7 linked regions of the Homo sapiens genome follow. The protein of the gene in region 2 purifies or fractionates together with the protein of the main gene of each other region. This does not show direct contact. Each region holds a gene or a part of one and is shown on either strand. Other genes may lie near its edges.

What was found.
Region 1: the proteins of FSHR (region 2) and APPL2 purify together in Homo sapiens (affinity purification with western blotting, with the first as the bait; one study listed by BioGRID). This does not show direct contact.
Region 3: the proteins of FSHR (region 2) and SNX14 purify together in Homo sapiens (affinity purification with mass spectrometry; one large-scale study listed by BioGRID and IntAct). This does not show direct contact.
Region 4: the proteins of FSHR (region 2) and PDZD8 purify together in Homo sapiens (affinity purification with mass spectrometry; 2 studies listed by BioGRID and IntAct, with this or other methods). This does not show direct contact.
Region 5: the proteins of FSHR (region 2) and FSHB fractionate together in Homo sapiens (co-fractionation; one study listed by IntAct). This does not show direct contact.
Region 6: the proteins of FSHR (region 2) and ABCD4 purify together in Homo sapiens (affinity purification with mass spectrometry; 2 studies listed by BioGRID and IntAct, with this or other methods). This does not show direct contact.
Region 7: the proteins of FSHR (region 2) and NAGPA purify together in Homo sapiens (affinity purification with mass spectrometry; 2 studies listed by BioGRID and IntAct, with this or other methods). This does not show direct contact.

Annotation. Positions count from the first base shown.
Region 1 is NC_000012.12:105,184,106-105,188,159, forward strand, and holds part of APPL2 (DCC-interacting protein 13-beta), read right to left. Parts: intron 1-4,054. UniProt on the Homo sapiens protein: Multifunctional adapter protein that binds to various membrane receptors, nuclear factors and signaling proteins to regulate many processes, such as cell proliferation, immune response, endosomal trafficking and cell metabolism.
Region 2 is NC_000002.12:48,962,332-48,966,385, reverse strand, and holds part of FSHR (follicle-stimulating hormone receptor isoform 1 precursor), read left to right. Parts: intron 1-2,419; coding exon 2,420-3,653; 3' UTR 3,654-4,054. UniProt on the Homo sapiens protein: G protein-coupled receptor for follitropin, the follicle-stimulating hormone. Through cAMP production activates the downstream PI3K-AKT and ERK1/ERK2 signaling pathways.
Region 3 is NC_000006.12:85,541,526-85,545,579, forward strand, and holds part of SNX14 (sorting nexin-14), read right to left. Parts: intron 2,236-4,054; coding exon 2,080-2,235; intron 1,782-2,079; coding exon 1,657-1,781; intron 519-1,656; coding exon 460-518; intron 1-459. UniProt on the Homo sapiens protein: Plays a role in maintaining normal neuronal excitability and synaptic transmission. May be involved in several stages of intracellular trafficking. Required for autophagosome clearance, possibly by mediating the fusion of lysosomes with autophagosomes.
Region 4 is NC_000010.11:117,291,835-117,295,888, forward strand, and holds part of PDZD8 (PDZ domain-containing protein 8), read right to left. Parts: exon of another isoform or gene 1,630-4,054; intron 1-1,629. UniProt on the Homo sapiens protein: Molecular tethering protein that connects endoplasmic reticulum and mitochondria membranes. PDZD8-dependent endoplasmic reticulum-mitochondria membrane tethering is essential for endoplasmic reticulum-mitochondria Ca(2+) transfer.
Region 5 is NC_000011.10:30,229,192-30,233,895, reverse strand, and holds the start of FSHB (follitropin subunit beta precursor), read right to left. Parts: upstream 2,883-4,704; 5' UTR 2,848-2,882; exon of another isoform or gene 2,818-2,847; intron 2,031-2,817; 5' UTR 1,994-2,030; coding exon 1,835-1,993; intron 327-1,834; coding exon 96-326; 3' UTR 1-95. UniProt on the Homo sapiens protein: Together with the alpha chain CGA constitutes follitropin, the follicle-stimulating hormone, and provides its biological specificity to the hormone heterodimer.
Region 6 is NC_000014.9:74,292,935-74,296,988, forward strand, and holds part of ABCD4 (lysosomal cobalamin transporter ABCD4), read right to left. Parts: intron 3,516-4,054; coding exon 3,399-3,515; intron 3,046-3,398; coding exon 2,920-3,045; intron 2,265-2,919; coding exon 2,214-2,264; intron 315-2,213; coding exon 220-314; intron 1-219. UniProt on the Homo sapiens protein: Lysosomal membrane protein that transports cobalamin (Vitamin B12) from the lysosomal lumen to the cytosol in an ATP-dependent manner. Targeted by LMBRD1 lysosomal chaperone from the endoplasmic reticulum to the lysosomal membrane.
Region 7 is NC_000016.10:5,030,944-5,035,668, forward strand, and holds the start of NAGPA (N-acetylglucosamine-1-phosphodiester alpha-N-acetylglucosaminidase precursor), read right to left. Parts: upstream 2,993-4,725; 5' UTR 2,972-2,992; coding exon 2,886-2,971; exon of another isoform or gene 2,786-2,885; coding exon 2,330-2,785; intron 942-2,329; coding exon 802-941; intron 1-801. UniProt on the Homo sapiens protein: Catalyzes the second step in the formation of the mannose 6-phosphate targeting signal on lysosomal enzyme oligosaccharides by removing GlcNAc residues from GlcNAc-alpha-P-mannose moieties, which are formed in the first step.

The sequences.
Region 1 (4,054 bases), on a different chromosome or scaffold from region 2:
ATCAGGTTATTTATGTTCTTCTCTAAACTGGTTATTCCAGTTAGCAGTTCCTATAACCTTTTATCCAGATTCTTAGCTTCCTCGCATTGGGTTAGAACATGCTCCTTTAGCTTGGAGGAGTTTGTTATTACTCACCTTCTGAAGCCTCTTTCTGTAAATTCTTCAAACTCATTCTCCGTCCAATTTTGTTCCCTTGCTGGCAATGAGTTGTGATCCTTTGGAGGAGGAGAGGCATTCTGGTTTTTGGAATTTTCAGCCTTTCTGTGCTGCTTTTTCCTCATCTTTGTGGATTTATCTACCTTTGGTCTTTGATGCTGGTGACCTTTGGGTGGGGTTTTTGTGTAGTCATCCTTTTTGTTGATGTTGATGCTATAGCTTTCTGTTTGTTAGTTTTCCTTCAGGCCCCTCTTCTGCAGGTCTGCTGCAGTTTGCTGAAGGTACACTCCGGACTCTCTTTGCCTGGGTATCACCAGTGGAGGCTGCAGAATAGCAAAGACTGCTGCCTGCTCCTTCCTCTGGAAGCTTCATCCCAGAAGGGCACCCACCAGATGCCAGCTGGAACTCTCCTGTATGAGGTGTCTGTCGATTCCTGCTGGGAGGTGTCTCCCCGTCAGGAACCACCAGAGTCAGGGACTCACTTGAGGAGGCAGTCTGTCCCTTAGCAGAGCTCAAGCGTTGTGCTGGGAGACCTGCTGCTCTCTTGAGAGCTGGCAGGCAGGAACATTTAAGTCTGCTGAAACTGCGCCCACAGCCACCCCTTCCCCCAGGTGCTCTGTCCCAGGGAGATGGGAGTTTGATCTGTAAGCCCCTGACTGGGGGCTGCTACCTTTCTTTCAGAGATGCCCTGCCCAGAGAGGAGGAATCTAGAGAGGCAGTCTGGCTACAGCAGTTTTATGGCGCTGCGGCAGGCTCAGCCCAGTATGATCTTCCTGATGGCTTTCTTTACACTCTAAGGGGAAAACCACCTACTCAAGCCTCAGTAATGGCGGATGCCCCTCCCCCCCACCAAGCTCGAGCATCCCTGGTCAACTTCAGACTGCTGTGCTGCCAGTGAGAATTTCAAGCCAGTGGATCTCAGTGTGTTGGGCTCCGTGGTGATGGGATCCACTGAGCAAGACCACTTGGCTCCCTGGCTTCAGCCCCCTTTCCAGGGGAGTGAACAGTTGGGACTCGCTGAGGTTCAGACGCCACTGGGGTGCGAAAAAAATTCTCCTGCAGCTAGCTCAGTGTCTGCCCAAATGGCCGCCCAGTTTTGTCCTTGAAACTTAGGGCCCTGGTGGTGTAGGCACTCGATGGAATCTCCTGGTCTGCGGGCTGCAAAGACAGTGGCAAAAGCCTAGTATCTGGGCTGGATAGGTCTGTCCCTCACTCACGGCTTCCCTTGGCTAGGGGAGGGAGTTCCCCGACCCCTTGTGCTTCCTGGGTAATGCAATGCCGCACGCTACTTCTGCTTGCCCTCCATAGGCTGTACCCACTGTCTAACCAGTCCCAGTGAGATAAGCTGGGTACCGCAGTTGGAAATGCAGAAATCACCTGCCTTCTGTGTTGGTCTCACTGGGAGCTGCAGACTGGAGCTGTTCCTATTCAGGCACCTTGTCTGGGAATCAATTTTTCTTTTTAAATCTTCTAATTTTCTGTGTGACCTCTAAATGGTCTCAGAACCTATTCCACTGCAGGGGTATGTTTACTGTGGTGACGTATGCATAACGTCAGATTTATCATTAGTGATGTTAAGTGTCTTCATAACTTTGTGCAGCCATTACCACTATCTAGTCCCAGGACATTTTTATCATCCCAGAGGAAACTCCATCCCCATTAAGCAGTTACTCATTCCTCCTCCCACCCTCTGGCAATCTCTAGTCTGTCTTCTGTCTCTATGGATTTGCCTACTCTGGATATTTCATATAAACAGAACCCTACAGTATGTTGCCTTTTGTACCTGGCTTCTTTCACTTAGCACAATGATTTCATCATTCATCCATGTTGTAGCACTTATCAGTCCTTTGTTCCTTTTTAAGGCCAAATAGTATTCCATCATATATATATACAGGTTGAGTATCCTGTATCTGAAATTGTTTTGGATTTCAGCTTTTTTTTCAGATTTTAGAATACTTGCATTATATTTACCAGGATGAGCATCCCAAAATCCAAAATGCTCCAATGAGCATCTCTTTTGAGCATCAAGTTGGCACTCAAAAAGTTTCAGATTTTGGAGCATTTGAGATTTCCAGATTTGGAATGCTCAACTCTACCACATTTTGTTGATCCATTCATTTGATGTTGGGCATTTGTATTATTTCCACCATTTGGATATCACGAAAAGGACTGCTATGAACATTTGCGTATAAGTTTTTGTTTGAACACCTGTATTTAATTCTTTTGGGTAACTACCCAGGAGCCCGCCAAACTATTTTTTCACAGCAGCTGAACCATTTTATATTCCCACCAGCAATGGGTTCCAGTTTCTTCACATCCTTGCTAAACGCTTATTTTCCATTAAATATATATATCATATATATATCATATATATCATATATATGATATCGATATCATATATATCATATATATGATATATCATATATATATCATATATCATATCATATATCATATCATATATATATCATATATATCATATATATATAAACATCTGTGAGACAGTGTGCATGCGTGCGCACGCCATCTTAATATGGAGTGACATATCTCATTGTGGATTTGTTTTGCATTTCCCTAGTAACACATAGCATCTTTTCATGTCCTCATTGGCCATTTGTATATGATCTTTGGAAAAATGTCTATTTCAAGTCCTTGGTCCATTTTTTAATTGGGTTGTCTTTCTGTTGAGTTTTATAAGAGTTCTTTGTATATTTTGTGTACTACATCCATATTAGATAGAATTTGTGAATACTTTTTTCCCATTCTGTAGTTTTTCTTTTCACTTTGATGTGCTGTGGTTTTTCACAGTACTTTTACATATATTTTCCTTTGATCTTTTTGGTGGAAATTATTCCAGGACCAATAGGATTATAAGAACCATGAGCCCATTTCTGTAAAAGGTCCAGGACATAGTGAAAGAACAGGTTTTATTAATAAGAACTTAATTCTCAGATAAGGTTCATAATAAATGAAAAGGATGGGCTTAATGAATGGAAGAAGCTATATCCTAATTTTTGCTATAGTCCTAGTTACCTTTTTTGAAGCTAACGTTCATTGAGCACTTTTCATGTGCCAGTGAGTTGTAAATGTCTTACATATATTAGCACATTTATTCCTCATGACATTTATTCCTCATGACAACAGTGGAGGGTGTGAATAGTTACTTTCATTTTACAGCTGAAAAAACTGAGGTACAGAGGCTCAAAAATTTGCTTAAGGTCACATAACTAAGAAATGCCGAAGCCAGGAATAAACTGAGACATTCTGGCTCTAAAGCAGTGCTGTCCCTTAGAAATGTAATGGAAGCCTTATATGTCATCGAAGTTTTTCCAGCGGCCACATTAAGTGAAAAGTAACAGATAAAATTAATTTTACTTAATCCAGTATATCTAAAATATTACCAGACATGTGATTAACCTAAAAAATTAGTGAGATGTTTTACATCCTAAATCTTAGAAATTTGGTATGTATTTAACACTGAAAACACATCTCAGTTCAGGCTAGTTTTGCTGCAGATGCTACCTGTGGCTACAGTATCATACACCCATGTTCATAACCAGGATTTTGGTCATATCTGAAACCCAGATCGTATTACCTGAAACACTAAATCATGTAGTTAATATGGCCTGCTCTCTCTGTGATGGCCAAGTTATTTAGGCAGATTTTTAAGTTTTTTTCCATTATTTTTTATAAATAGTACTCTCAGAAATGAAAAAAAAAAAGCAAAACCAAAAAACTTCCATTTTCAAGCTCTGAGCTATAATATAGAGAATAAGTCTAGTGTGATGGCATCTTTGTGAACAACAGTATTCACTCACCACTGGATTTTTGAAGATACCAGTTCTTGTCTCTAAGGGAGCACTTTCTAGGCTATCTATCTTATGTAAAAAGTAGTGGGGGC
Region 2 (4,054 bases):
CTTCAATTTTTAATGTTAAATACAATAAAAATTGTGTTTCTTCACAACTCAATGTTGTGAAGGCCATTTCTTCACAATTCAATATTAAATTGACATGCTGTTGCATATGCTTCTAAGTACCCACACAGGGCCTAGACCTCAAGAATTCCATAAGTAACCACCATCATTTGTCTTCATACTGCTGACATTTGCCAAGTATTCACTACCAAGCACTGTAATACTCTGTATCTTTATTTCATTTAATTCCCACAATGGTAATATCATTATTATTCCTTTCTCACAGAGACAGAAACTAAGGCTCAGAGATACTAAATAACTTGACCTACACTGACCAAACAGATCCAAATCTGGTCTGCCTGCCTCCAAAGCTTAGGCTCTGCGACACTGCTATGCCACCCCCAAGCATCTGTTCACTGACTGATCAGAGTCCAAGAGTGCCACTTTTTCAACTGACCCTAAACTGAATTCCCAACTCCTTATGATAATTAGGATTTTCCAAAGTACTGCGGAGGCAAGACTTGATGTCCTTTGGTTTCCACTTTTGTTTCTGTTCTTATCTCAGAGACATAAGTTATTTACTTTTCTCCTTACTTCATGTCAGTGGGTCACTTCAGTTTCAGAAAAAGAGAAGCACAATATTTAAAATATATGGACAGCAGTATCAACAATAAGAACCTTCACAGACAGCGACCATAAGCCATAGGAAGTGAAGGCTGTTTCTAGAGAGTTAAGTCAGAGCTCAGTCCAATGAACCAAACTGCAGTCAGCAAGTACCAGGTTACTTACTTTCTCTTCCTGGAATCAGGCTGCAACTAATTCAGTAACAGGGTTTAAGAGTCTAGAGTTAGACTAAGGACCACAGGATACCCCTCTTCTCCCCTCTATACCCATTATGGAGCTTGCCTCACCTTTCTTGGAAGACCATTGACTAAACCAGAACATTTTCTGGGCTCCGTTTCCATTCACTTTCAATTCTGTGTATGTTAATCATTTAGCCTTAAAAAAACAAACAAACAAAAAGAATCCCTTAGGCCAAGAGAAAATGACTTCCTGGCAATTCAATTCACTTCCCAGGGGTGAGAGAAGAGAGGAGAGCACTCTTCCTAACAGACCCTTCTCATCCAGGTTGATGGGGCAAGGTTCAGTCCCTGTATAATAGGTTGGAACACCTGGCAAGACTCATCCTTTAGCATCAAATGGAGTCTTTACCTCCTCCACTCCCCTAGCCACCTTTTTCCTTCTTAAGAAGGTTTGATACTTACTTCGCCACTTATATCTGAGGTTATGTCAAGGTTTAAAAAAAATACAGTCAACTTAATATTGCTGTGAACTTGCCCCTTGGGGAAGGAGGGAAAGGTATGCATGTGTATGTACAATTTTTTTTTTTTTTTTGCATCCAAAAAGGTCCTAACGTAAGGCTTATTCCCATTCCACAAGCCTTTGCTTCCAAACAGAAGTATTACCTTTCTTGTTTCTACATCCAGAGTATTGATATACTACTCTGGGGTAGAATATTTATGGGTATACTCGTGGATTGAATATTTATCACCTGGATTTCATTCAAATCCCTCTGTAAGTACCTCTATCCTGTTGACAAGGCCCCTTGTACATTTGGGTTTAAAGGCAAAACCAAGACAGTAAAGTGAGCCCAAGGAGAGCTAGGCTGCCCAGAGGATGAGTTCCATTCTTAGAATAAATTAGGTCCTTTTGCAGCTTGCATTGTTCTTTGGGGCACTCACTAGGAAACTGTTCAATATGAGAGAGCCAGGCTTACCTTGCAGACAAGCACATGCTGAGGCCTATTGTGGCCCCCAGAAAGTGAGATAATAAAGAACAGGAAAGACCCTGGTAACATTTCCGGCAAATTAGCTGGCCTCCTAATAGCCTGAGTACCAAAGAGCCAGGGAATAGGGGCTGGCTGGGAACTAACTACAGATTTTGATCCCCTAATTTATGTAGATAAGAGAAGCAAATAAGTTCTCATTTGAGTCAGCGAACAGTCTGGATCTTCCAGTGATTTGAGTGTAGACGAATAGGAATATGTCCTACTCAGGTGTATTAAGAGATAGCTGGATCAAGATGGGAGAAGGAAAAGGGTCGAGTTGATGCCAGCTCTGTAAATTATTTTCACTTAACAGCAAGGCTTAGTCTCAGGTGCCTTCCTCCCCACATTCAGGTTGTGGCAAGATGGTTTCCCCAGTGAGCCATCCAACTCTAGTAATATATATACAAGTTGTTATATTCATTTACAGTAAGCAGCATTAACCCTTGAGGTTAGCCTCAAGGGCAGGTATGATGTGAGAAGAAAAAAAAAAAATCTCAGGAAGAAACTCATCATTTCTACCCTGCACAAAGACAGTGATGTATTTGCTATACTGGATCTGAGATGTTGATTCTATTTCTTTTTGTATTTTTCTAGCTCTGAGCTTCATCCAATTTGCAACAAATCTATTTTAAGGCAAGAAGTTGATTATATGACTCAGGCTAGGGGTCAGAGATCCTCTCTGGCAGAAGACAATGAGTCCAGCTACAGCAGAGGATTTGACATGACGTACACTGAGTTTGACTATGACTTATGCAATGAAGTGGTTGACGTGACCTGCTCCCCTAAGCCAGATGCATTCAACCCATGTGAAGATATCATGGGGTACAACATCCTCAGAGTCCTGATATGGTTTATCAGCATCCTGGCCATCACTGGGAACATCATAGTGCTAGTGATCCTAACTACCAGCCAATATAAACTCACAGTCCCCAGGTTCCTTATGTGCAACCTGGCCTTTGCTGATCTCTGCATTGGAATCTACCTGCTGCTCATTGCATCAGTTGATATCCATACCAAGAGCCAATATCACAACTATGCCATTGACTGGCAAACTGGGGCAGGCTGTGATGCTGCTGGCTTTTTCACTGTCTTTGCCAGTGAGCTGTCAGTCTACACTCTGACAGCTATCACCTTGGAAAGATGGCATACCATCACGCATGCCATGCAGCTGGACTGCAAGGTGCAGCTCCGCCATGCTGCCAGTGTCATGGTGATGGGCTGGATTTTTGCTTTTGCAGCTGCCCTCTTTCCCATCTTTGGCATCAGCAGCTACATGAAGGTGAGCATCTGCCTGCCCATGGATATTGACAGCCCTTTGTCACAGCTGTATGTCATGTCCCTCCTTGTGCTCAATGTCCTGGCCTTTGTGGTCATCTGTGGCTGCTATATCCACATCTACCTCACAGTGCGGAACCCCAACATCGTGTCCTCCTCTAGTGACACCAGGATCGCCAAGCGCATGGCCATGCTCATCTTCACTGACTTCCTCTGCATGGCACCCATTTCTTTCTTTGCCATTTCTGCCTCCCTCAAGGTGCCCCTCATCACTGTGTCCAAAGCAAAGATTCTGCTGGTTCTGTTTCACCCCATCAACTCCTGTGCCAACCCCTTCCTCTATGCCATCTTTACCAAAAACTTTCGCAGAGATTTCTTCATTCTGCTGAGCAAGTGTGGCTGCTATGAAATGCAAGCCCAAATTTATAGGACAGAAACTTCATCCACTGTCCACAACACCCATCCAAGGAATGGCCACTGCTCTTCAGCTCCCAGAGTCACCAGTGGTTCCACTTACATACTTGTCCCTCTAAGTCATTTAGCCCAAAACTAAAACACAATGTGAAAATGTATCTGAGTATTGAATGATAATTCAGTCTTGCCTTTGAAGGGTATGTCACAAAGAGCTGACAGTGCTTCTACACATTTCATCTAATTTAATATTCCTGGCATACCTTTAAGGTAAATTGGTCAGGAACTATTAATTCCATGTGATACATTAGGAAGCTGAATTATTAGTAACAACAATAATAATTAAAGAATGCAATACTGTATTACATATTTTATCCTTATATATGTTATTTTTGCACGTTATGTTCAAAGTGCTTTTGTTCAGATATCTCAAGTGATCCCTGTTAAATAAGCAGGACAGGGATTATTCTTGGAGTTTTACAAATGAGGAAACCACGACTCAAAGAGTTAAGTGACTTGTTCAAAATTGTTTAGTTTGTAAGA
Region 3 (4,054 bases), on a different chromosome or scaffold from region 2:
AGATTTTCTCTTCTATTACCTTTCTTTAGGTCATTTAACTGTACACTTAGATTTCCAGAGCCAAAAAAAAGAAAGAAATAAACATCCCTCCACTTTTGTACCCAGTAAGCACTCTTAAAAAAAAGTTTTCTCTAAAACGTTTAATTCTGAGTTATCTGTGGATGCCACTTATGCATTCAGTCCCTAGTCTCCAATAAAGCTGGTAATCAAAACTAATATATATTCATTATGAGATTAACAAGGCCACATTATGTATCTTGTTAAAATTTTTCTAAAAGAATTTCAGGCATTTTCAGATCACCATATAGAATACAGTTCTACAATTCACTAGTAAAATGCCTTGTGAACTCATATAACAATGGAACCACATATTCATTCAGAAAAATAGCTAATAAAGACAATGATGCTATCATAGAATGACTGGCATCAGCAAGTTCAAAAACAAAACATACAACCTACCTGTTCAATTTTGAATTGCGTGTTGGTGATTCTGCACCTCTTAAAAGTTGTCTGAAATACTTTAAAATAACAAATAATAATTATCATTTATTACACTTACAATTAACATTAAAACATGTTACCTTAGTTTACTACTTTCCAGTTTTGGGAAAAAAAAAAAGCTATCTCAATCAAGTGAATACAGACATGGTCAACTAGGGTAAGGATGAAAATATTGCAAATGCAGATGATTTCCACAGGTTTGTAAATAACGTGTATACAATGAGATTTCTGCGTCACTGCAGTACTACAAAGCCACTCAGGCATATGGCAAACCAGGCAGACCTATTTGGTCCCAATCTATCTACTTACACAAATATAAACAGGTTTTGGTATTGATAATTGTTTTTGCAATTATTATTTTATTTATTCATTTATTTATTTATTTTGAGACAGAGTCTCGCTTTGTTGCCCAGGCTGGAGTGCAGTGGTGCGATCTCGGCTCACTGCAAGCTCCGCCTCCCGGGTTGATGCCATTCTCCTGCCTCAGCCTCCCAAGTAGCTGGGACTACAGGTGCCCGCCACCACGCCCAGCTAGTTTTTTGTATTTTTAGTAGAGAAGGGGTTTCAATGTGTTAGCCGGGACAGTCTTGATCTCCTGACCTTGTGATCCGCCCGCCTCGGCCTCCCAAAGTGCTGGGATTATAGGCCTGAGCCACCACACCCGGCCTTTGCAATTATTTTTTAATCTTCACTTAATTACATAGCGAAAAAGAATATTTACTTTCTTAATCTTGGTTTTTTTGTTCTGTTTTCTACTGAGACGGAGTCTTGCTCTATGGCCCAGGCTTGAGTTGTAGTGGTGTGATCTCAGCTTACTGCAACCTTGGCCTTCTGGGTTCAAGCTATTCTCCTGCCTCAGCCTCCTGAGTAACTGAGATTACAGGCATGTGCCACCACACCCAGCTAATTTTTTCTATTTTTAGTAGAGATGGAGTTTCACCATGTTGGCCAGGTTGGTCTTGAATGCCTGAACTCAATTGATTCAGCCATCTCAGCCTTCCAAAGTGCTGGGATTATAGGCGTGAGCAACTGTGCCCAGTAATCTTGTCTTATTTTTCTATTTATTTTGTTATTTGAATCACTCATCTAATGATATCAAAGCTACTATTAAATTATGTATAAAAATCCTCAAACAAGGTTAATATTTTGACTTACCTCATCACTATGGCAGAACATAGGAGTAAATACATTCTCCAAAAGGGAAAGAACATGTTCATATGCTTCAAAAAGACATCTCATAGTTTGAAGTTTCACAACATCTATGTATGGGCCTTCAGCAACTATTAAAAAAATTCTACTGTAGAAATTATTTATAAATAGCATAAATATATACAGTTCTAAAACGTTTTACTGAAACTCCACTGAAACACACTAGATTGAGAAATTAGACCAACCAAGCTCTAGTTCTGACAAATACATAAAGTATAAATAAGTTTTTTCTTTAAAGCTTTCATCTCATTAGTAAAATAGAATAATAGCTGCCCATGTACTGCAGCTAGCCACTGCAATAATAAACAGAAAATAAATGGAAAAACTGTAAGAGTGCTAAATAAGTCATTCTTATCGTCTTTGACTTACTTCTTTGAATCTCTTCTACAATGAAGGGATCAAATCTAATTTTGTCAATACTTTCATCCAAACAGTATGTTTTATAAATCTTCTGCAATTCTTCATGAAGAGACAGCATTTCATCATTTGATAATTCTGGTCGTAAAATTCTATCATTAAATTCCTCTAACAAATGAGGGAATGAATAAGAAAAAATAATTTTAATATATAATTATTCATAAAAGCTTCAGTCCCATTCTAATTGTAGCCAATACTAACAGCAGCAATTAGAAGCAATCTAATTCATCTAAGTTTTTAAAAAATATTTGAGAATAAAATAACTACTCAATAAAAGAGAAATGCAATCAACCAGTTTTTATACATTAATAGAAAATATGTAAATACATAAATACCAATACAAATTTTGCTAAAATTCAAAACACTAAACACACTTCTAATAGTTTCCTTAAAGAATATTGAATTTATTATACCAAAAGTCTTTTATTATTTTGAGATCTGATTTACTAAATAAAAATAAAAATGAAGACTTTTTTTAGTCCCAATCAATGTTTTTAAACAATATTTCTATCATGAACGCTGCAAACTAGTGGCAGAACTGAGTTTGAACAAATGAATGTTTATTCCAAAATAAAAGATGGTAGTATTATGATAGCCAAAATACCAATTGCTTTTTCTTTTTATTTCAGGATGTGTTAATAAGGAGTTTACCTTTTACTTCTTAATCATTCAAACTGAAACATAAAGGGGAAAAAAGGGAGTTAAAAAAAAAAAGCTGGAATACAGGATATAAGATTTGTGAGGCAACAGAATATAATTGCCATTCCTGTATGAGTTAACATGCATATAACTGGAGTTGTTAAAGAAGAGAAAATGGGGCAGGATATTTGAAAAGACAGCCAGGAATTTTCAAAATTGATTAAAGGTCAGGTGTGGTGGCTCATGCCTGTAATCCCAGCACTTTGGGAGGCTGAGGCAGGAGGATCGCTTGAGCCCAGGAGTTCAAGACCAGCCTAGGGAACATAGTGAGACTCAGTCTCTACAAAGAAATTAGCCAGGCATGGTGGTGTTCACCTGTAGTCCCAGCTACTTCGGAGGCTGAGGCAAGAGGATGAATGAGCTCAGGAAGTTGAGGCTGTATTTCGTGAGCCATGATCATGCCATCTTTTCAGACACACAAAAGCTAAGAAAATTTATCTCCAGCATATTTGTATTTTAAGAACTGTGAAAATGATTTCTTTCAGCAGAAAGAAACAATATTAGAAACCTGGTTCTGCAGAAAGAAATGAAGAGCACCGGGACAGTAAATATGCCAATAATTGTAAGAACCTTTAAAAATGAATGTGTGTGTGCATTCCACACATGTGTAGAAGCCTGATGACTAGTGAAGAAATAATGTACTGTGGTTTTATAGCCTATGCAGAATTAAAATACATGACAACAGGAGCACAATAGGCAGGAGAGGATGCTCTGAGGTACACTGAGGTTCTTACACTGCTCCTGAAGCAGTAAAATGTTTTTAAATTAGGACTATGATAAATGAAAAAGAAAATCTCTGATCAATCAAAAAAGTAACAGAACACACTCAAAAAAATAGGAAAGATAAAATACTAAAAAATAACCTCAAGAAAGGCAGCAAAGGAGAAAAAGAAAGGCAAAGAATATACAGGACAAATATAAAACAAACACCAAGATGTAAGGCCTAACAATAAACACATAATAAATATATCACGTGTAAATGTACTACAGATACCAATTAAAAAGCAAAGATTACTAAATTAGGTTTTTTTAAAGTGAGAGAAACTATGTGCTGCTTACTAGAAATACATTAAACATTTCAATCAGATAGAAAAAGATATACAAATGAACACTCAAATATAAAGAAAGATGATGTGGCTATATTAACATCAGACAAAGCAGACTTCAAGACTAAAAATTACCAAAGATAAAAGAGGAGCATTTTATAATGATAAAAGAATAAATTCAT
Region 4 (4,054 bases), on a different chromosome or scaffold from region 2:
GTCCTCATTCAAACAACTGATTTAAAAAAAAAAAACAGGCAGAGTGCTACATCCCAGCTGTTGACAAGGATTCAATTAGTGTTTATGGCGCTCAATTACAAATCAGTCTAATTGTATTATTCTCCAGTCCACATTTCTTAAGTCCTATTCTTCAAGGATATCTCATGAGGGACTTTGCCAAATACCCTAATATCCAAATATATCACTGGCTGCACTGCTTTAATATATAAATCCCACTTGGACAGAAATTCAATTTTCCTACCTAATGATATTCGCTGGTAAAAGAACCCTCACTGGAAGTTGCTCTTTAATTTGGGTGTTAACAAATTTTGTAAAGTTATTTTAAGGAAAATCTTAATCATACTGTGCTCAAGAAATGGGATATGTGGTCAAATTCTGAATTACCTAAAGGTTTACAAAACACAAAGCCCCGCCAAAACACGTAATTTGTGTTTAAATCTCCTAAGACATTTGTCCAATCCCTGCCTTATGACACAGCAATTAATCACCTTACAATGTAAAGTGCTGTACACAATTAAGGCTTTTAACAAAACCCTTAACAACATATTCTCTCAAATCCAGGAACATAAATATATTCTTAATATACAGATTGCCAAAGCTGAAATTTAGAATGTAAGTTTTTCTAATTGCAGGAAGCTAATGATAGCAAATGGGTAGAAAACCTAAACAGTGTAAGTCTGAGTACTGTAAAGTTTAAAAATTAACACCTGCATTTGGAATGTGTTTTTTTTTTTTGTTATTTACTCTGCTTTTAAAAGTAGAATGGAGATTCAGGGGGTAGGATTAGGAAGTGAATAGAGGCTAGTGTAAGGTGTTAGTGTAATTTAGTTTCTTAATTTATTTTCTATCTATAAATCATATCTTTCCCTTTGCTTTTCTTAATTCAAATGATACCTGAAGTAAACATTCCAGATGCAAAAAAAAAAAAAGATAAGGTTTTCAGTAGCAATAATTAGGGCCAATATTACATTACCTCACTTTCTCCCCAATTTTTACTGATTATTAGTAAATACTCTTAATTTCAAGTATGTACAGGGAACAGAACATAAGACACTGTTTCTTTTACAAGCTGGTTTTTGTTTCCTTTTAAGCCTGCACCCCACTGACCTAATTTTAGATTTTAATTTCAGCATTCCCTGAAATGAAAATCATCACCTTAATTAAGTTCTGACATGATTCAGAAGTTTCAGAATATAAAAACACCTCTTAATTAAAAGCCTGGTGAAACAAAGCATTTTAAAATGAGTATTTCACAAAAACATTGTTATTTTAATATAAAATTTAAGATAAGGTTCAAGACCATGCAATGATACACAACTTTTGGAACAAAACTGATTTTCCACTAGGGTAAAACTACTATTTTAAAACCAGAATAGTACAATGATATATAATATATAATTCTCTCCCATATGTATGCATCTATATCTTAAAATTATTTATGACTATTGGATATGCCTGGCACTATAAAACATATGCCAAAATAGAACTTTTAAAATGACAATGTAAAAAACAAACATAAATAGAAACCCTAAATATTTTTCCTGTACATGGTGAAGCATGCTGTGGCTTCAACATGCATTCCCTGGAATATAATATCACCTGAGAGGGTTTGGCTTTTAAGATTTTATTACAGAAAATTTCCAATATATACAAAAGTACAGAGAACAGTAAAATCAACTCAGTGGTAGACCATAAAACATGGTAACAAATTCCTCCTATCCTTATAAGCATATCTCTTTGCAATGTAACTTTACTAAAGCTGCTGCTAGAGGTATAACTTGGTTTCTTCATCCCTCTCTCAGCAACCAATATAACTAGAAAAAAATAAGTGGAGGCACAGGCAACCTCAACATCATCAACCTTGATTTAACTGACACTTATAGAACATTATACTCAACAATGGCAAAATACATTCTTTTCAAGTGTACATGGTAAGTTCACCAGGATGTAGAAGGTCATGAAACAAATATCAGTAATTTTAAAAAGACAGAACTCTTACAAAGCATGTTTTCTGACCATAGTGGAATTAAATTACAAATTAGTAACTAGGAAAACCCCAAATATCTGGAGAGCAAAACAACACACTTCTAAATAATTCATGAGTTAAAGAAAAATCACAAGAGAAATCCAAAAATATTTCAAATGAAATGATGAAAATGCAACCAATCAGAATTTGTGGGATGCAACTAAAGTAGTGTTTTAGAGGAAATTTATAGTTTTAAATGCTTATATAGGGGGGAAAATCTAAAATTAGTGACCTAAGTCCCCATTTTAAGAAATTAAACCCCAAAGTAGAAGCAAAGAAATAATAAAGAACAGAAACCAATGGAACAGATACTTAAATAATAGAGAAATCAATAAAAGCTGACTCAATAAAATGACCAATAAAACTGGTAAGCCTATAGGCTAAACTGATCAAGAAACAAGAGAGAAGACACATATTACCAAATAAATGGCTATTACCAAAAAGACAAAAAAAAAAAAAAAAAACAAAAAAACAAATATTGACAAGGATGTGGAAGAAGAGGAACTCCTATACACTGTTAGTGGGAAAGTAGATTAGTTACAGCTATTATGAAAAACAGTACAGTGGTTCCTCAAAAATTTAAAAATAGAACTAGCAATGATCCAATAATCCCACTATTGGGTATATAGTCAAAGAAAATGAAATTGGTATGATGAAGATATACTTGCACTTCCTTGATTACTGCAGTACTATTCACAAGAGCCAAGCTATGGAATCAACCTAAGAGTCCATCAATGGATAAATGGATAAAAAATGTGCGGTATACAAACACAGTGGAATACTATTCAGCCACAAAAAACAAAACCCCAGAGAAAAGTCATTTATGACAACATGGATGAACCCAGAGGACATTATGTTAAGTGAAATAAGCCAGGCAGAGAAGGACAAATACTGTATGATCTCACTCATATGTGGAATCTAAAAAACTTGATCTCATAGAAATAGACGTAGAAGAGTGGTTACCAGAGGCTGGGGAGAATAGGGGGAGTGGGGAGATCAGAAGTGGCTATAAAAAGTTACAGTTAGGAGGTATAAGTTCTGATGTTCTATTGCACAATAGGGTAACTATAGTTAATAATGTATTGTATATTCCAAAATAGCTGGAAGAGATTATTTTTAATATTTTCACCACAAAGAAATGTTTGCGGTGATGGCTATGCTAGTTATCCTGATTTGATCACTTGAGCTGGGAAGGTGGAGGTTGCATTGAGCCATGACTGCACCACTACAGTCCAGCCTGGGCAACAGAGCTAGACCCTGCCTCAAAAACAAAAAAAACCCACCACCACCAACAAAACCCAAAAAAGACTGAAAATGAACTCAGTGGTAGACCATAAAACATGGTAACAAATTCCTCCTATTCTTATAAGCATGTCTCTTTGCAATGTAACTTTACTAAAGCTGCTGTTAGAGGTAAAACTTGGTTTCTTCATCCTCTCAGCAACCAATATAACTAGAAAAAAGAAGTGGAGGCACAGGCAACCTCAACATCATCAACCTTGATTTAACTGACACTTATAGAACATTATACTCAACAATGGCAAAATACATTCTTTTAAAGTGTACATGGTTATATCAATTATATACATTAAATTCATAATTATAAGCCTTCCTTCCCAACACACAAAAAACTCCCTCCCAGTTGGGAGCTAGGTTGCTTCATCGGTGAATTCTGAAAGAAAAAATAAAACAAGGCAAACATAAAACAAGAAAACAGAAGTATAGACTAATCTCTCTAATGTTCAAAAAGATACAAAATTTAACAAAATTTTAGGAAATTCAACCCAGCAATACATTAAAAAAGATAATAATCATAACCAAGTGAATCAATCAATGTAATTTATCGTGTTAACAAAACAATGGAGAAAGCCATATTTCAATACTGCAAAAAAATTAACAAAATCCAATATTCATTAATGGTAAAAGCCCTCAGCAAACTAGAAGTATAAGAGAACTTCCTAAACCTGATTAGACATCTACAAAAATCTACAAATAACACAAAACTCA
Region 5 (4,704 bases), on a different chromosome or scaffold from region 2:
TGGTTTGTCCCCTGGGCACATTGCACACACACAGACTTTTTGAATATCTTGGTCCTTCAGGACAAGGGTATGTGGCCTGAAATGTCCACTGATCTTTATTCTTTCATTTCACCAAAGGAGCAGTAGCTGGGCCCCAGGCCTCGCACAGTACAATCAGTGCTGTCGCTGTCACACTTGCCACAGTGACACTGGGTGGCCACTGGGTATGTATACAAGGAATCTGCATGGTGAGCACAGCCGGGCACTCTCACTGTTTCGTATACCAGTTCCTTGAAGGTACATGTTTTCTGGATTTTGGGCCTGGCTGGGTCCTTATACACCAGATCCTGAGGAGTTTAAGAAGAGAGTTAGGTTATGGTATTGTGGAAGTTCCTATTTAGCTTAGTCAAAATGAGACAGAAATTGAATACTGCTTGCTCTAACATTTACCCATTAAAACATGACCTCATAAATGACCTATATGCTATTTACATTTCTAAATTGTTCTTGAAATCTTCCAGAAAATACAAGTAATTTCTTTTCTTACTTCCTATGGCTATATCAAAATATTAACTATTTTTCAAAATATAAAGGAACTTTGAATTTTAGCATAGAAAAATGATGAAAAACATGACAGGATTTTAAGTTGACTTTTCATATTTAATTGAAAGCTGTATTAATAACAAACCATAAACAAAGATATCCAATGTCTCAGAAAAAATATTTTAAAATACACTGCCCTGAGTATTTATAAAAGGTCAAAAATATATAATTTTAAATTTTAATGCTTAAGTTAACATGTTTGCTAAGGCTAACATAAGATTTTAAATATTCCAACTCCTTGTGGACATTTTTCTCCCTTGAAAGCTGTATACTTTGCAGGGTTCCTAGTTTCAAAGGATATGCAGTTTGCATATAAGAATTTTTAATCCAGGTAGAAATTATTTGTAGTAGCACTTTCCAGTGGAAAAATTATTTATACTGCGTAGAGAAATTGGGGCTTCTGTTTATTTTAATATCATCCTACCAAATGTATATCCCAAGAAGGTGCAATAAATTGTGTAATAAATGGAGTTTGATCAAACTCATTTACCGTCAAATAAAGTATCGTTCATTTAAAAAGTTGCCATTTTCAATTTTAGTTTATAGAATGAAATTCTGCATAGATAATTAGGGGTGCTGCAGAGAAAAAAGAAAGCACCATGGAAACTATTTCTCTACTTGTATTAATGCAAGGAAACTGCAAACACAGACTAGCAACTGATGCCTCTATGTCTTGGTTTTCTCAATGCTATAACGAAGGGAGTGGGTTTGCTGATTCATTTTTGTTCTAACAGTCTGCAAGAATTGATTGTGTTCTCAGGCTGTTTTTTGGCATTTGTATTTAGTAGGGCCAGGAAGACAATTTTTTTAAGTGGCTGTCTATGTTTTTATGTGACTTGGAGACATATTTTGGTGTGATTTTGTGTCAAAGATGTAGTGTCAGTTAAAGAAATTGCCTTTATGAGAATATTATAGGTCCTTTATGATTAAATATATGTATGTTTCCATGTTTATCTCTCTATGTGTAAAAACGTAACATAGAAATACTTTTTCCCTGTAGATGCAAAGTTGGACTAGTACCAAATTGATCAGATTAAATCTGAGGCTTTCCTAAATTTACCCAAATCAAATCCAAGCCCAAACATCTAAGTGATATCGTGGTCATTAACCCCAATCACAACACAGACAGTCTTGGCTAAAGGACTCATGGCTGTTACTTAGAATACATAAAATATTGATAAAGTAGAAACTAATGAAACCGGCCTAATACAGACCTTCAACACCCTTGCTTCCAGCAAAACATGGTACCTACCCTGGTGTAGCAGTAGCCAGCACACCAAGTGGTGTTGATGCTTATGCAGAAACGACATTCTTCTTTCTCTATTGCAATGGTGATGTTGGTCAGCTCACAGCTATTGCAGCAGATTGCTTTCCAGCAACAGAAAAGGAAGAAAAACTGGAGTGTCTTCATCCTGGTCTGGGAAGCAAACAATGAAGCCCACTAGAAACTGAGAAACCAAAGAACGATAATCATTATGTAAGCTGACCAAACCAAAAATAATTGGTCTGCTCATCCTCCTCAATCACATTTTGCTTCAAAAGTTTTTTTTCCTTCCTTATGCCTTTTTACTTACATCTTTGTTTCTTGGAACAACATTTTTCCTTGTCCTTCTTCAATTTTTGGGTCAGGGTGGGAATATATTATAGATCAAAACTCCAATATAATGATTTAAGCAGAGGAATATTTAAAGATTAGAATCTTATTGCTGACTGTCATAAAGTAATTACTCTGATAATTGTGATCATCATATTTGTTCTTCCATTATTATTTTAAAGTCTATTTTTGTCTGAAAAGAAAAATAAAATTCTTTTCTTTTCTTGAGACAGGGTCTTGCTCTGTTGCCCAGGCTGGAGTGCAGTGGTATAATCATGAATCACTGCATCTTCAACCTTCCAGGCTCAAGCAATCCTCTGACCTTGGCCTCCCAAAGTGCTGGGATTACAAGCATGAGCCACCATTCCTGGCCAAGAAAATTCTATACTACAAAATTATGTCTTCATTTTTAGAATCTCATAAATATTTTCTTTTGCTCACATTTGTTTAAAATAAGACCATTTCAGAAGAGAGGCATATTGGTCTATAAAGTCAGTTACTTGCTAACAGTGATTACGTTATATTAACCATATTTTACAAGCCAGGTTGACAAGCATAAATTTCCTACACAACAGTAGTGAGAAGCTCTAGTTTTGTCCTCCATGTCCTGACAAATCTGTAATTTCAAAAGTAGCTGTCACCACTTGAAAACGGTAGATGCCAAGACTCACCTGTGGTCGGCTGCCTTGCCTGGCAAGAGCTGTAGACTGAATGAAATCTCAGTTCACCTTTTATACAAAATCATGTGCAACTAACACCTTGTGGATTTGTTGGGTATTAATATGACCAATGCTAGCCTGAAGCTTGCTGTAAGTGAATCAGTGTTTAGATAGACAGGGAGATCAAGCTTTACTAAAGTAGTCTAAACGCAGTAGATTAGAAAAAATAATGTTACTAGAGATGATGATTTTGTACAAATTAAATTTGATACAGTAGCACACCCACTCCTTTACCTTCTCAAATTAATTGTGACTCCAGATTTTTCTTTTGTATCTTTAAATCAGGAAATTCAGAGTCCTTTCCAAGTATTGCTTTGACTCTGTTCAGGAGATGCATTAAAAAATATGGTTAATAAATTGCTCCAAGAGCATATCAAAAGCTGTGAAGGAAGAAACAAACAAAGAGAAAACATTTCATGATCTGGCTCCTGTCTAAAGTGTGAACTGTATCTCTCTTTCCCTCCCACATTCTGGCCCCCTAATCACAAATCTTTATTTTTTGATGTTTTAGCAAGAACTTTCTACTTTACTTGTAATTCCATAAATATGTTGCTGATTCATATCTTTAGATCTTTGCATGTAATGTTCTTCCTGCCTGAAATGTCCTTGCTTCCTCCCTGCCTCCTCCAACACCACCCTGAACCCTGGCAAATTCCTCAACCTTCAACATCCAGGGGAGTTTCACCTGTCAAAGTTTAGGATGGGAGGTGAGGGAGAACCATAATCACTACCTTCTGTGTGTAACCATTTATAGGCTCTTGTTTCCTCCAATAAACTATGATCTCTTTGGAGACTAGGATTGCTTTGTTTAATAAATATTTACTAATCAAACAGTGTGACTGGAGCAAAAGGACAACAGCAGTAATATTAGAATATGATGTCAGAGAGATAACAGGAGTCAAATGTTGGAACTTGTAGACCAGTGTAAGGGCTCTGGTTTGTACTCTTTGTGTAATGGGACCCATTGAAGGATTTTAAGTAGAGGAGTGACGTGACATGATCTGATTGAGTTCTAAAAGGACTCCTCTGACTGCTGTGTTGCTAATATAGGGGAACCAAGAAACAGGAAGACCCGTTAGGATGCTATCAATAACCCAGGTGAGAAATGATGTTTGTTCAATAACCCAGGTGAGAAATGATGTTTGTTCAGACTAGTATGGTAGCTATTGGAGGTAATGAGACATGCTCTGACTCTGTATGCATTTTGAAAGTAGAACCAACAAAATTTTCTGATGGATAGATGTTGAGTGTGAGAGGAGGAAAAGGGTCAAGGATGGCTCTAAAGATTCTGGTTTGAGTAGCTGGAAGGATAAACTTGCTATCAGCTGAAAGGGGATGGCTGTAAATGTCGAAGTTTGGGAAAAGGAAATGGAGTTCAGTATGCACATGTTGAGCTTGAGTTGTTTGTACTACATCCAGGAGATAATGAAGTTTCTTTTTCCTCTTTCCAAAGGAGACTGAGGAGGGCCATTGAGGAAAGTAGGAATGGGGAGAATATGGTGTCCCAAAAGCCAAATAAAGAGAGCATCTCAGGGAGGAGCCAGTGACACCTGTGTCAGATACTGCTGACAGGTTAAGTAAGATGAGGATCAAGAACTTCACAATGCATATGCGATGTAAAGTTCGCTACTGTCCTTGGCTGTAAAAGTTACTTTGGAATGATGAAAACAAAAACCTGATTGGTATGTGTTTAAGTGATTTGGAGGAGATAAGTCATAGTGAATATAGACAATTTTTCCAAGAGCTTTTTTTTACAAAGATCAATAAAGAAATGGGTATTTGGTTAATGTGGATGTTGGGTAAAAATAA
Region 6 (4,054 bases), on a different chromosome or scaffold from region 2:
AAGACAGGGAGCAGGACGCCAAGTAGGGCCACGTGGACTCTCTGGATCCTCATTCTCCTGAGGATACTCACAGAAAGGCAACAGCCCCCCCTCCTCATCCCCGGTTAATTCCTTCATCATGGCACATTTATCCTTGCAGACAGGAGGTAGAGAGGTGTGGGAAGGGAAGCAGACCAGTCCAACCCCATGGTTCCCACTTCCCTGGGCCCCCTCGCCTACTGTACAGCCAGAGCTCCTTGGACATCAGCTCCCTCTGGGTCTGAAGGAGTCTCTGCAGCCTGCGGTCTGTCCTCATGTGCTCCACATGCCCAGCTCTGACAAGGAAAGGCTGGGATGTCCACAGGGCTGGAGAGGTTCAGCCAGGTTGGGGGGCCGCCTGTCCCATATCACACCCTCCTTTAGAAACCAAGGCCATTCAAATGATCTTGGTCTCAGGATCTGTCTACTGGTAGCGCCCATTCACGGCTTCAGTCATGCCTTAATGGTATTGTCTGTGTGAAGAACATAAACTCTAGAGTTGGGCAGACCTAGTTCAAATCCTGGCTCTGGCCAGTTACTAGCTGCGTGACACAGGCAGGCTACTTAAGCCTCCAAGCCTCAGTTTTTTTAATCTATAAAATGGAGCCAATAATACCTATGTAATAGGTTAGAGTTAGAATTAAAAGTTTCTAAATATAAAGTGCCAAGCACATAAGGAGCCCTCAATAAATAAAAACTATTGTTAAATAAACATACACAGAGCGGTCACTAGGTGTACCAGGCATTGCACTAGTTAGCTAGTGCAATAAAGAAATGAGAAAATTATCTCTGTCTTTGAGGAGCTCTCAGTCCAGAGGGCAGGCAGGCACACTGCATTCTTCACTTGGAATCAGGAGTACTAAGTGTGCCCTCAGGGCCATGGCAGCAGATAGGCTTAGCCATTAAGGGAGTCTGGGAAGGCTCTCCAGAGGAGGTGATCTGGGGTTTCAAGGATGGGAAGAAATTCGCTAGGCAGAAAAGGTGGAGGGAGATTTCAGATTTTGCACAGAGGCCACAGAAGAACTCATCTGAAACTCTACAAACTAACCTGCCTTCCCCAGAGCTTCATGAGCAGAGGCTGCAGAATCCAAAAGCAACTTTTTTCTTTTTTTTTTTTTGAGACGGAGTCTTGCTCTGTCACCCAGGCTGGAGTGCAATGGCAGGATCTTGCCTTACTGCAACCTCTGCCTCCCGGATTCAAGTGATTCTCCTGCCTCAGCCTCCCCAGTAGCTGGGATTACAGGTGCCCGCCACCATGCTCAGCTAATTTTTTGTATTTTTAGTAGAGACAGGGTTTCACCATGTTGGCCATGGCTGGTCTCGAACTCTTGACCTCAGGCAATCCACCCGCCTCGGCCTCCCAAAGTGCTGGGATTACAGGCATGAGCCACCATGCCCGGCCTCCAAAAGCAACTTTTTTACACACCCAGCCCTGCCCACCTCACAACCCCACCCCAGCGCAGATTCCCAGTATTCTTGGTGCCCTCAAGTGGTGGAGGTTGCAAACTGCAGCAGAGACTGAGGAGCAAAGGTCCCAGGGCTATCACATCCACCCCAAGTACAGAGCCAAGGAGTAGCTTCCACTTCTTAAACGCAAACCTCTGCCTGCACTATCAATCCTAACGCTGATTTCAGAGGCCTCACATAAGGCAGAGCACAGGGACCGGTTCTGGCCCTGGAGGGAAGGGATGGGATTTCATGCCGCTGCTGCTGCTCCTGCTGCTGCCGTCAGGAGACCAGACGCTTGGCTCCATTAGACAGCATTGTGGGGAGCAGGTCTCCTGGTTTTCTGAGAAGCTCCCATTCCATCCCACGCTACGGAGACAAAGGATCAGGCTTGAACCTCAGGCACTGGCAAGAAAGCTTCTTAACAGACAGAAGAGCAGAGGCAGACGGATGTCTTACAGTCACCAGCAAGAGGATGAGGCATTCATTCATTTGACAATTTCAGGCCCCACGCTAGGCCACTAAGACTAAAGCTGGCCACAGTAAGGAACCACCAGCTTCAGAAGCAAACCCCTGGACCTAAGGATGAGGCAGGCAAGGGCAGGGGGAGGTAGAGGGAGAGGGTCACAGCCAAGTGTGACAACACTCAGCCCCTGAGCTCGGTGGTGGTGGGAGGGTTGAGGATTCATCTTTCCTTCTCCACTCTCAGCTCTGGCAAGGCAGAAGGGGAACCATCTCTCCAGACTCACCTGTAGAAAGCAGCAGGCTCCGCATTCACCCGAATCTGCATGTGCTTGAACCTGGGCGGACCAAAGGGAAATGTGTGCTGACAACAGGGAGTACTGGCCTCACTCTTGTTGGAGTCCTGGATCACAAAGACCGCCCAAGCGGAGCCCGGCTCTGCCTCAAAACCGTGGCTGCCTCAGTCTGACCCTTTCCTGGACTGTTATGGGGTAGAAAACCCCAGGGCTAGGTGGTGTGGCAGGAGCTCTGCAGAGACAGGGCTGCCCCTCAGCTTTCTGCAGAGAGGACAGGGGTATTCCTGCTCACAGCATCTCCTCCTCCCAGGGCCTGGCCCAAAGGAGGGGGACAAGAAGCACAGGGCAGGCACTGGATCCATTGGCTGCCACACCCAACTGATCCAAGACAGGGCGGTTATGCCAGGGCAGTGAGAAGGCCAAGAGATGACAATGACGATGGTGATGGCCAGGCAGACACGGTTCTCAGACCTTCTCAGGTATGATTTCATTAATCCTCCTAATCCTCTCAGTAGGCAACGGTACCATTTCCACTTTAGAGACAAGAACATTGAAGCTTGGAGAGGTTAAAGACCTCTCCAAGATCACACAGCTAGTAACTGGCACAGCTAGGATTTGAACTTAGGCAGTTTTACTCCAGATCCCCTTCCTTAACTATTATGCCCCAGCCCAGAAACCTCAAGTGAGGGAGACACACCTAAAATCTCCCTCCAGCTTCTCCTGATGCACCAGCTTCATCACAATGGGGCCCATCAAAGTTTTGTTCACCACGGTCCCCAGGATGAAATACCCGAAGATGCTCACAGGCCCGAGCCAGCCTGTGCTGAAATAGAGAGAGAGGGAGAGAAGGGAGAGGGTGTGGGGTGCCACCTATCCCCACATGCCTCAGCCCTGACTCCTGTTCCCTCTCAGGTAGCCCCTGTCCAATCTGAGTGGCCCAATGGGCCCTCTGCTCCTATGTGGGGGCATCTGGTATGAGCTCTCAGAGCCAGGATATCTGTGACACTGCAACACAGGGCCAAAGGAAGGGCAGGGGCCTGAGCACGTGGGATGGGTGAGCACGTGGTAAGGTACGGTGGGAGAGAGGGGAAATAAGCTTCTCTTGGACCTTGACCTGGGAGAGCTGACTGAGGGCCCTCTGGGGAAACACCAGGCTGGGGAGGAGGGAGGCTTCACCTTTGGAAGCACTGGTAAGTGTAGTAGACGAGGGTGAACGGGGAGATGATGAGCTTGCTGGCCATGCTGCTGAGCTGCCGGCAGAATCGCTCCACGTCCTGGCTGATGCGCTGGTCCCTGGAGCCAATGACACAGAGTAGCTGGACCCAGGGAGATGGGCCCAAAGGTAGAGAGAACAAGAAACTTTCACATCACCTCTGCTCTTGACCTTGCCTCACAGTGCTGTGAACACTGACCCTATGGGAAGAGGGAACCAGACAAGGCTGGTTTCCTAGGGGCAACTAAATCCCAGGGCCTTTAAACAGGGTTCTAGAGAGTTGCATCTTACGGTGCCTTAGTTAATCCCCTGAAAAAGTGGGAACTGAAAGGTCCAGTACCCAGGGGCCTGAGCCAGCTCTGAGCAGAGCCAAAGAAAAACTTGAAGGTAGATGAGCTGTTTTGGATGATCAAGAAGACTATCCCCTTTATCTCAATCCTCCCAAATTTCTCTTATATAAGCCCTAGCCTGGCCCCTTTAGTTATCTGGCTGTGAAAGCTCCAGGCTGTGAGGCACACCTGTAGTCCCAGCTACTCAGGGGGCAGAGGCAGGATGGAAGCCATAGCCATCAGAAAGAGGCCTAGAAGTTAGGCAGCAGCAGCAGCCTCCCACGCATCTT
Region 7 (4,725 bases), on a different chromosome or scaffold from region 2:
TTGAGACAAAGAGTCTCGCTGTGTTGCCCGGGCTGGAGTGCAGTGGCATGATCTCAGCTCACTGCAACCTCCACCTCCCAGGTTCAAGCAATTCTCATGCTTCAGCCTCCCAAGTAGCTGGGACTACAGGCACACACCACCATGCCTGGCTAATTTTTGTATTTTTTTTTTTTGTAGAGATAGGTCTCACTATGTTGCCCAGGCAGGTCTTGAACTCCTGGGCTCAACCGATCCTCCCGCCTCGGCCTCCCAAAGTGCTGGGATTATAGGTGTTAGCCACCACACCTAGCTTACTGCCCACTCTAAAATGGTCATGGTATCCTGTCCCCATCCCAGTATTCTGCATCCCAGTGGTTCTCAACCTTGAGTGTCGGTCAGAGTCACCATGGAGGCCCGTTAAAACATAGACTCTTGGGCCTTGCCTCTGATTCTGCAGGTCTGAGGGTGTGGGGCTTTGAAACAAGCTCCTGGGCCACGCCGATGTTGCAGGTCCATGAAGATTTTTTTCTCTTCACTTTTCTCTTCCTGTACCCACAGCTCCGGTCCCCATCTCTCCCCTTTCCCCTAACTTTATTTTTGTTTCTGAGCACTTATCAATTCTTTTCAGCATATTCTATAACTATTTTTTGTCCTATATATTCAATATAAGCCTATCTTCCTCCCCATGAATCCCCAGTACCCAGAATAGTGCTGGGCACAAAGTAGCTGCTCAATACTTGTTGAAAGACTTAAGAACAGCTCCGCCCAGCCCACTGGTCCTGGTTCTCGAGAGGGTTGTTGCCAACAGCCTCCCCATCCAACCTGTCTCCTGTGTCTCGTCACACTCTGTGGCTTGGCTCTCGTTGATGTAGATGCTTCCATTACGAATCAGCCACACGACCCCACTCAGCAGCTGCACAAATGGGTTCTCAGTGTCCAGCACCTCCTCCTCAGACAGGTACCTGGATCCGGGGAAGGTGGGAAGCTCACTCACCAGCAGGGGCAACTGCAGATAGTCAGGCTCTTTCTCCCTAGCCATCCCAACCTGGCTGCTAGATTCCCCCTCATGCCCCAGGAACCTCCTGGGGCCTGAGTGTAGCTGGGACAACTTAACAGCCCTAGGAATCTCCCTGTTGTCAGAGCTGAAGCTGGACAGGGTTCTGACAATACAATCCCCACAAGCCTTTGCAAACAGTCTGTTTCATTTAACAGAAATGACCATCCCCCAACAGAGCTCAAATCCATCTATGGCCCTCAATCCCCAGGCCATACCCAGCCCAACTACCACTTGATCCCTGTTACGGCCCTTCATTGGCTTCCTTGTTTCTCCACTGCTCTCTCCCACCTGGTCCCACTCAGGATCAGAACAAGCTTTATCATCAACAAATACTTTTTTTTTGAGACTCAAATAATTTTTAAGATAATTTTAAATAATTCAAATCATCAATCTTGCCAGGGCGTGGTGGCTCACACCTGTCATCCCAGCACTTTGGGAGGCTGAGGTGGGTGGATCACTTGAGGTCAGGAGTTCGAGACCGGCCAGGCCAATATGGTGAACCCACTCCCCCGTTCCCCACCCCATCCCGTCTCTACTAAAAATACAAAAATCAGCCGGGCGTGGTGGCACACGTCCGTAGTCCCAGCTACTCCAGAGGCTGAGGCAGGAGAATCGCTTGAACCCGGGAGGCAGAGGTTGCAGTGAGCCGGTATCATGCCACTGCCCTCCATCCTGGGCAACAGAGCAAGACTCTGTCTCAAAAAAAAAAAAATCATCAGTCTTGATGAGTTGATGTTTCTGACACCCCACTCCTTTTTCAGTCCCTCATACACACAAGCCCCCCTGAGCCTCTGAGCCTTTGTGCGTGGGGTTCCTTTGGACTGAAACGCTCTTCCTCCAGTTCTGACCTTGGCTCACTTAGTGATTCATCTTCAAGTTCCCACTCAAAGGTCACCTCGGAGAGGCGTGTTCCAGATCACCCTCCCTAAAATCAACACTATTTACAACGGGTTCACCCCGTTGGTTGCTTTGCTGCACACACAGCAATCAGAATGTATGTTAGCTATTTACCCGGCTTTTGTTGATTTTTCTAGTAATGGGGGAGGGCTGTTAAGGCAAAGACTGTGTTGTTCACGGCTATCTCACCGGGGCGCGGCACATTGCCTGATACAAGCAAGTGCTCAATGATACTGGATGATGAATAAACTCTGCAAGGAAGCGATTCCTATCCCCATTCTGCAGAGGAGGAAACAGGGGCTCAGCTTGGTTAAGTGACTTGAACACGGAGGCACGGCTACAACCCAAATCTCAGGCCCTCTGCCCTCGACAGCACGGGGCTCCCTGCCTCCTCACCCGGTGACCAGGGTCCCGTCGCGGCGGATCCCGAACTGCGCGTTCTGCAGCCCCCCGGAGCTGCTCACCCGCCGCTCGTCGCTCACCACGTTCCCCAGGCACTCGCCCGAGTTCATGCGGAAGAAGCCGCCGTTCTGGGCGACACGGCAGTCGGCCGCCCGCGCCGTCTCCTCCACGGTGGCGCGTCGTCTCGCCGCGCAGCCGCCGGGTCCACCGGGCTCCAGCACCGAGAAGGTGCGCAGGGGCTCAACGGCCCGCGTCAGGTGGCCGGCCACCGCGCGGTCCCTGAAGTGCGACACGAAGGTGCGCACGGCCAGACCGCCGGCGCCGGGAGTCGCGGGAGGCGGAGGCCAACTCTCGTGCTCGCGGTTGCCGGCGCGCACCCGTGTGCAGTCCCGGGGGAGGCGCGCGCGCGCGCGTGGATAGGGCAGTAGCAAGTCGTCGTCGCGGGAGGCCCTGCGGGGACGGGCGGCCGTGAGCTCAGGGGGCTGTCCTCGTGAGCTCGGAGGACAGGGGGGACCCCCCGAACCAGGCTGGCCCAGGGAGCTGCACTCACCCCGAGTCGAGGCCGCCGGACGCTTCCCAGAGGAAGCCGAATAGTGCAAGCCGGAGGAGAAGCCAGCGACCCGTGGAGGTCGCCATATTGGACCGGGGCCTCGGGTCATGTGGGCTCGCCTCACGTGACTCAAGTCCCAGGGTGGCCGCTTTCAGCTCGGACTGAATTACCTGCGCTCTTTTCGGCTGGCGGGCTGGCGGGCGGTGCTGGTGATGTTAACTTTTTATCTCCAGGTAATCTCAAACCTACAGGAAGTTGCAAGGAGAGCATAAAGAACTCTCGTAGAACTGTTATTCATGTTTAGCAGTGGTTTAGGCTTGCCTGATTTACTCAATCATTTGTACTTTGTTTTTTTTTTTTCCTGAACCAATGGCAACCAAATTGCAGATGTCATGATCCTTTACCCCATACCTCGCCATGAATCTCCTAAGAACAAGGGCATTTTCTTAACCACAGGGCAAATATCATTAGGACAACTCCCATTGACATTTCTGTGATGTCATCCACAGCTAACCTTCAATTGTCCCTCTAATGTCTTTTTTTTTCTTTTCCTTTTTGTCCGCCCCTGACCCTGTAACCCAGGAGTTGCTTTTAGTTGTCATGTCTCTTTGATCTCTTCATCTGGAAGGCTCCTCAGCCTTTTGTCTTTTACTACCTTGACATTTTTGAAGACAGCCCAGCTACATGATTTGTGTGACTCAATGCAAAATGAAAACGTGGGGACACTTACTAAAAAACCCAGAAAACTATTAAGAATTTCAAGATGGTCAGAGCAAATGGTTGCAGCAAGCCAGGGACCTTCTGAGTGAGCCCATGAAGCTGGCCCTGAGTATAGAAGCCAGTTTATTTTGTAGCATGTACTTCAAGCTTCCTTTGAGAGGATTCTTCTCTTCAGGCCTCCTGTCCCAGTGCAGTGTCCAGGGTTGGGTGGTGTCTTGGTGCCAGTGCAGTGCGTGGGCCATTCCAGGAGCCACGGCAAGTCTAATTGGCTTGATACTGTTGCGGTCTTGCCAGTGCACCTTAATATAGCAGTTTCTCCTTGTCTGAACTAGTCCCGGGGTTCTTTGTCCTACCTCCAAGAAAACTAAGGAGCGTGGACACAAGGGTGGGGTTGGAGCGAACGTTTAATAAGGGAAAGAAGAAAGCTCTCCAAAGTGGAGACGGGAGTCCGAGTGGATTGTCGGGTTACAGCTGAATGCAAAAAGCTTTTTTTTTTTTTTTTTTTAAGACAGAGTTTTGCTCTTGTCACCCAGGCTGGAGTGCAATGGTGCGATCTTGGCTCACTGCAACCTCAACAACCTCTGCCTCCTGGGTTCAAATGATTCTCCTGCCTCAGCCTCCCGAGTAGCTGGGATTACAGGCACACGTCACTGCGCCCTGCTAATTTTTGTATTTTGGGTAGAGACGAAATTTTACCATGTTGGCCAGGCTGGTTTCAAACTCCTGACCTCAGGTGATCCGCCTCCTTCCGCCTCCCAAAGTGCTGGGATTACAGGCGTGAGCCACTGTGCCTGGCCGCAAAAAACTTTTATAGGACACTGCTCTCCTCCTGGTAACTGAGTAACTTCTTACCAGTAAAACTGCCTGTGCAGCTCCCCTTATGTTATGCAGCTGTGGGTATGTCTCTAGGCAAGTGCAAATCGCTGCTTCTCTTGTTTGTGTAACTGTGGGTTTGTTTTAGATAAGGCCCCCTCCTCCCTGTGCCGGTTTCCATGGAGCCCACTGTGTATATGCCTGAAAAGGAGAGGAAACTTTTTCCCGGGAGCCTGCTAATTATGCAAAGAACAAAGGGCTTCTGCGCTGGACCCTGTCTGCTTATCTCCGTGCAGGTCCAGCCTGA